Regions from separate parts of the Homo sapiens genome. Here region 2 is linked to region 1. Evidence: fine-mapped expression QTL. A gene starts in region 1. The other region holds a variant in brackets. All regions are shown on one strand. Distances are between the middles of the regions.

Region 1 (2,917 bases):
AGTATATTCTGGATATAAATGGTGCTAATATAGAATTGAATTTTAATCTCAACTTCAGCATTAACTAGACATGAGACGATTTCTCTGTTTTGCCTCAGTTTCCATATTTATACAAACAGAGAAAGTAATACTTGGCTGGCATTTTTCAGAGTGCTTCTGTGAGGACGTATTGAAATAATCAATGTGAGGCACGTTACGTTATTTAAACATTATACAAATAAAAGTTAATCTCCCGAATTTATCTAAAAATTAAAAGGAAAATATTTAAATACAGTAAGATAAGTTGGAAAAATTTCAGCACATTTTATTTGTAGCAAAGTTGGCCCTCATTCTTCCACACCAAAAATAATGGGGGAGAGAAGAATCAGGAAATGACTACTTATGAAACGAGAACCCAAGACTTGGGGAAAGATTGTTTCCTAGCGATTGAGGCATGCAAGTTACATTTTATAGCCGCATTGGTAAAAGAAGGATGGGCTTTGCCTCCACGCTTGGTGATATCATGAGGGTTTAACTTTCCTTTAAATAGAGGTGGGATAATACAAAGTAGCTCAGCAACAGTACCTGGTGAAAGAGACTGGCACATCTAAAACTAGGAGAAAGGGGAAAATTAGAGCAAACGTGGTTACCTATTTTCTAGTCTCTTCTTTCTTCTACATGTCTTCCCAATTCTTTCACAAACTGTGACTAATGAATCATATTGTTTTTGGTTTTTAAATTCAGCCCCTCCCAACCTCCCTTCCACAGATAGGGTCTGGGGAAAGGAGGCACGGATAGGTTACCAGAACTAATTCAATATCCTAATGATTGTACACCTCAATCATGTCTCTGCACAATATTTCTTCGAGCCGCTTTATTTGTTTATCAATGAACATCCTACTGCGTCCCTGAGATGTAGGTCATCGGAAATACCAGCTGCCGATCACATGCAGTCTTCATTGTATTTCCAGACCCAGTGCGCTGCTGATTCCTGCACAACTGGAGTGCGCCTGAGCTGTGTGAGGGAAAGGAGACACCTGTGCCTTAGGGACGCAGGTGAAGTCCCATCTACCTTCCTGAGACTTTCCCTGGCGCTTTTCCACCCTCTCGGGTGGCTCACTTCTCATCTCCATCTCCCCTGTCCACTTGTACTCAGACCTCTCTCTTTAACCTGCGCTTTTCCCGCGCTCTCTCTCCTCTGCGCCTTAGCTGAAGACACAGAGAACTCCACAAAACTGGGCATGCCTAATAGCCAGGGAAGGCTTGGGCGCAAGAAGAAAGCGTTTGCATCTTCCGAGCTCCCTTCCCCTCTGCAGCTGCCTCCTGCCAGTCAGGCCACCCGACTTGCGCTACCGCCCAATGAGAGCCCGCGGCCTTCTGCCAGCGCCCCGCCTCTCCTGGCACCACCACCAATGAGTGGTTGGCGGAGGTGGGCCGCGTCCTGTTCCCGCCTCTCCAGTTAAGGCCGCTGGTGTGAGCCGGGGCTCTGCGCGAGCGAGGGACGACGGAAGGGACGGGCAGGTGTGGGCGCGGGGCCACGCAGCCCGACGGCGGGAGTCGCAGGTGCTGGGTGCATGGGCCAGTGAGGACGCACAGAGATCCCTCGCCGCGCGGAGGAGGAGCAGCGCGGGAGCCAGGCGCTGCCCCAAGACCCTGCCTGCGTCCGAGCGAGCGGAACCTCGCGCTTCGCCCGGGGACAATCCGAAGTCCGCGCTATGGAAGAGGAGAAATATTTGCCTGAGCTGATGGCAGAGAAAGATAGCCTGGATCCATCTTTTGTGCATGCGTCGCGCCTTTTGGCAGAAGGTAGGACTTGCCCCCACAGATGGGCACAAACCGCCGGCTGCCTATCTCACCCGCGGCTTGATTAGGGGAGTGAAGTTGGGGAGGGACTCCTCTCCCCGCCTTCGCAGAAACTGTCCCCCTGAAGATGCTCGCCTTAGAGCTCGGGCGGACAGACCCCGTTCTTGGGGCGGACAGCAGTGCTCCTTCTCCACGTCTTAATTTGGAGAAGACCAAAGCTACGGAGATCTAATGGCAGTGGCGATGTGACCTGTTAGGATCATTGATAGAGAAACCATAAAGTGTATGTAACGCGGTCTACAGGGACATTTTCACTTCGCAGAGGGAAGGGAAAGCAGTTTGGAAGTAAATGGTGATCAATGTAGTGTTCTAAGAGCTTCGTAGCTACAGATCGGTATTTTTATTTTTATTTTTTGCTGCATTTAGGAAGTGATTTTTGATACCCTTTAATCAAAGTCTATCCTATGGAAAGTGTTAGAATTAACCTATGCATTAAACTATGCATGTTCTTATATGTATGTTAATGTGGTAAGTAAAGGCTAAAGTGCTTATACATTTATTTGAAGTGTGATGATTGGGTACTCTGTGAGATATTGGTCCCTGGGAACACTCTATAATTGATCAACTGTTTTACCAAGTGTGCATTTTCTTTTGTGTACCTGTAATGTTAAAGGGGATTTCATTCCTAGAGGAACACATATGTCTTGTTTTTTGCATTGCTTTGAAAGGTTTTTTTTTGAAAAAAGACACATGAACTTTATTAACCGAATTACTCCATTTATGTTATAATAATGCCATCTAAATACTAAAGACACCTATGGTATCTGTAGTTACTTACCCATGCCTTTTTAAAACATCTGCAGATTTTTTTTAGATGAATGCTTCATTAATAATGAATTGCTTCATCATCAAATTGGTTACAATGCAGTTTTGTAGCTAAGTTTGTTATGGACTTACATACAGCAAAAAACTAAAACGGATAACTTCCTCTACCCAAGCTCCTCAGTATTAAAAGATTTTTTTGAGACTTAGTTGTACCAAGGAAGAATAAATTCTGCTCCTCAATATATGATTTAAATAGGCATTAGCTATATTTTTTAATTTATGAATTGTTATTTATATTAACAATGAAGTG
Region 2 (2,917 bases), 890 kb after region 1:
AATAAAGGTTAAACTCTGTACGTTGAACGCACACATCACAAAGTAGTTTCTGAGAATGATTCTCTCTAGTTATTCTATGAAGATATTTCCTTTTCTACCATAGTCCTCCAAGTGCTCTAAATATCCACTTGGAAATTATACAAAAGAGTGTTTCAAAACTGCTCTATCGAAAGGAACGTTCAACTCCGTGAGTTGGATGCAAACATCACAAAGTAGTTTCTGAGAATGCTTCTGTCTAGTTTTTATGTGAAGATATTTCCTTTTCTATCATAGGCTTCAAAGCGCTCTAAGNNNNNNNNNNNNNNNNNNNNNNNNNNNNNNNNNNNNNNNNNNNNNNNNNNNNNNNNNNNNNNNNNNNNNNNNNNNNNNNNNNNNNNNNNNNNNNNNNNNNCAAACATCACAAAGTAGTTTCTGAGAATGCTTCTGTCTAGTTTTTATGTGAAGATATTTCCTTTTCTATCATAGGCTTCAAAGCGCTCTAAGTATAAACTTGCTGATTCTACAAAAAGAGAGTTTCAAAACTACTCTATCAAAAGAAAATTTAAACTCTGTGAGTTGAACGCAGACATCACAAAGTAGTTTCTGAGAATGATTCTGTCTAGTTTTTCTATGAACATATTTCCTTTTCCACTATAGTCCCAAAGCGCTCTAAATATACACTTGCAAATTCTACAAAAAGAGTGTTTCAAAACCACTCTATCAAAATAAAGGTTAAACTCTGTGAGTTGAACGCACACATCAAAAGTAGTTTCTGGGAACGATTCTGTCTAGTTTTGCTATGAAGATATTTCCTTTTCTACCATAGGCCTCAAAGCGCTCTAAATATCCACTTTGGAAATCCAAAAAAGAGCGTTTCATAACAGCTCTATCAAAAGGAACGTTCAACTCTCTGTGTTGAATGCACACATCACAAATAAGTTTTTGAGAATACTTCTGTCTAGTTTTTATATGAAGAAATTCTGGTTTCCAATGAAATCCTCAAAGAGGTTGAGATATCGCCTAGCAGATTCTTCAAAAAGAGTGTTACAAAACTGCTCTATCAAAAGGAATGTTCAACTCTGTGAGTTGAATGCAAACATCACAAAGCAGTGTCTCAAAATGCTTCTGTGTAGTTTTTATATGAAAAATATTTAGAGCGTCTGGGGCCTTTTCTACCATAGGCCCAAAACGCTCTAAATATACACTTACAAATTCTACAAAAAGAGTGTTTCAAAACTGCTCTACCAAAAGAAATGTTAAACTCTGTGAGTTGAACGCACACATCACAAAATTGTTTCTGAGAATGCTTCTGTGTAGTTTTTCTATGAACATATTTCATTTCCCACCATAGGCCCCAAAGCGCTCTAAATATCCACTTGCAAATTCTACAAAAAGAGTGTTTCAAAACTGCTCTATCAAAAGGAAGGTTCAACTCTATGAGTTGAGTGCAGACATCACGAAGTTTCTGAGAATATTTCTGTCTACTTTTTATGTAAAGATATTCCCTTTTCCAAAGAAGGCCTCAAAGCA[C/G]TACAAATATCTACTTGCAGATATTACAAACAGAGTGTTTCAAAACTGCTCTACCAAATGAAAGGTTAAACTCTGTGAGTTGAACGCACTCATCACAAAGTAGTTTCTGAGAATGATTCTGTCTACTATTAATATGAGGATATTTCCTTTTCTACCATAGGCTTCAAAGAGCTCTAGTTATCCACTTGGAGATTCTACAAAAACTGTGTTTCAAAACTGCTCTATCAACAGGAAATTTCAACTCTCTGAGTTAAATGTACATATTACAAAAAGTTTCTGAGAAAAGTTCTTCTGTTAAGTTTTTATGTGAAGAAATTCACGTTTCCAACGAAGGACTCAAAGAGGTGCAAATATCCACTTGCATATTCTACAAAAAGACTGTTTCAAAACTGCTCTATCAAAAGAAATGTTGAACTCTGTGAGATAAATGCAAACATCACAAAGTAGTTTCTGATAATGTTTCTGTCTAGTTTTTTTATGAGCATATATTCTTTTCCACCATAGGTCTCAAAGCACTCCAAATATCCACTTGCAGACTTAATAAACAGTGTTTCAAAACTGCTCTATCAAAAGAAAGGTTAAACTCTGTGAGTTGAACGCACACATCACAAAGTAGTTTCTGAGAATTCTTCTGTCTTGTTTATATGAAGAATTTCCATTTCCTACAAAGGCCTCAAAGAGGCCCAAATATGCACTTGCAGATTCTACTAAAAGACGGTTTCAAAAACTGCTCAATCAAAAGGAATGTTAAACTCTGTGTTGAATGCAAACATCACAAATTAGTTTCTGAGAATGCTTCTGTCTAGCTTTTACATAAAGATACTTCCTTTTCGACCATCTGTCTCAAAGCCCTCTAAATGCACAATTGCAAATTCTACAAAAAGAAGATTTCAAAATTGCTCTATCAAAAGAAAGGTTAAATTGTGTGAGTTGAATGCACACATCACAGTGTAGCTTCTGAGAATGATTCTGTCTAGTTTTTCTATGAAGATATTTCCTTTTCTACCGCAGGCCTCCAAGCGCCCTAAATATTCAGTTGGAAAGTATATAAAAAGTGTGTTTCACAACTGCTCTATCTAAAGGAAGGTTCAACTCTGTGAGTTCAATGCACACATCACAAAGAAGTTTCTGAGAATTCTTCTGTCTAGTTTTATATGAATTAATCCCGTTTGCAACGTAGGCCTCAAAGAGGTCCAAATATCCTCTTGCAGATTCTACAAAAAGAGTGTTTCAAAACTGCTCTATCAAGAGGAATGTTCAACTCCGTGAGTTGAATGCAAACATCACAAAGTAGTTTCTGACAATGCTTCTGTCTAGTTATTTAGTGAACATATTTCATTTTCTACCATAGGCCTCAAAGCGCTCTAAATATACACTTGCAAATCCTACAAAAAGAGTGTTCCATAAC

The links. PIP is the estimated chance that this variant, and not a neighbour inherited with it, causes the effect.
Region 2: its variant is the best candidate, but not a certain one, in a credible set for the expression of KHDRBS2 in tibial nerve (GTEx, PIP 0.71).

Annotation. Positions count from the first base shown.
Region 1 is chr6:62,284,726-62,287,642 of GRCh38, reverse strand. KHDRBS2 (KH RNA binding domain containing, signal transduction associated 2) reads left to right here and starts at 1,418. Exons shown (of 9, transcript NM_152688.4): 1 at 1,418-1,785. The coding sequence starts at 1,695. RefSeq lists a silencer at 1,469-1,558.
Region 2 is chr6:61,391,321-61,394,237 of GRCh38, reverse strand. No RefSeq gene overlaps it. Among named protein-coding and RNA genes, the nearest start is that of KHDRBS2, 890 kb to the left of the region's middle. The variant C/G (reference allele first, on the strand shown) is at 1,510.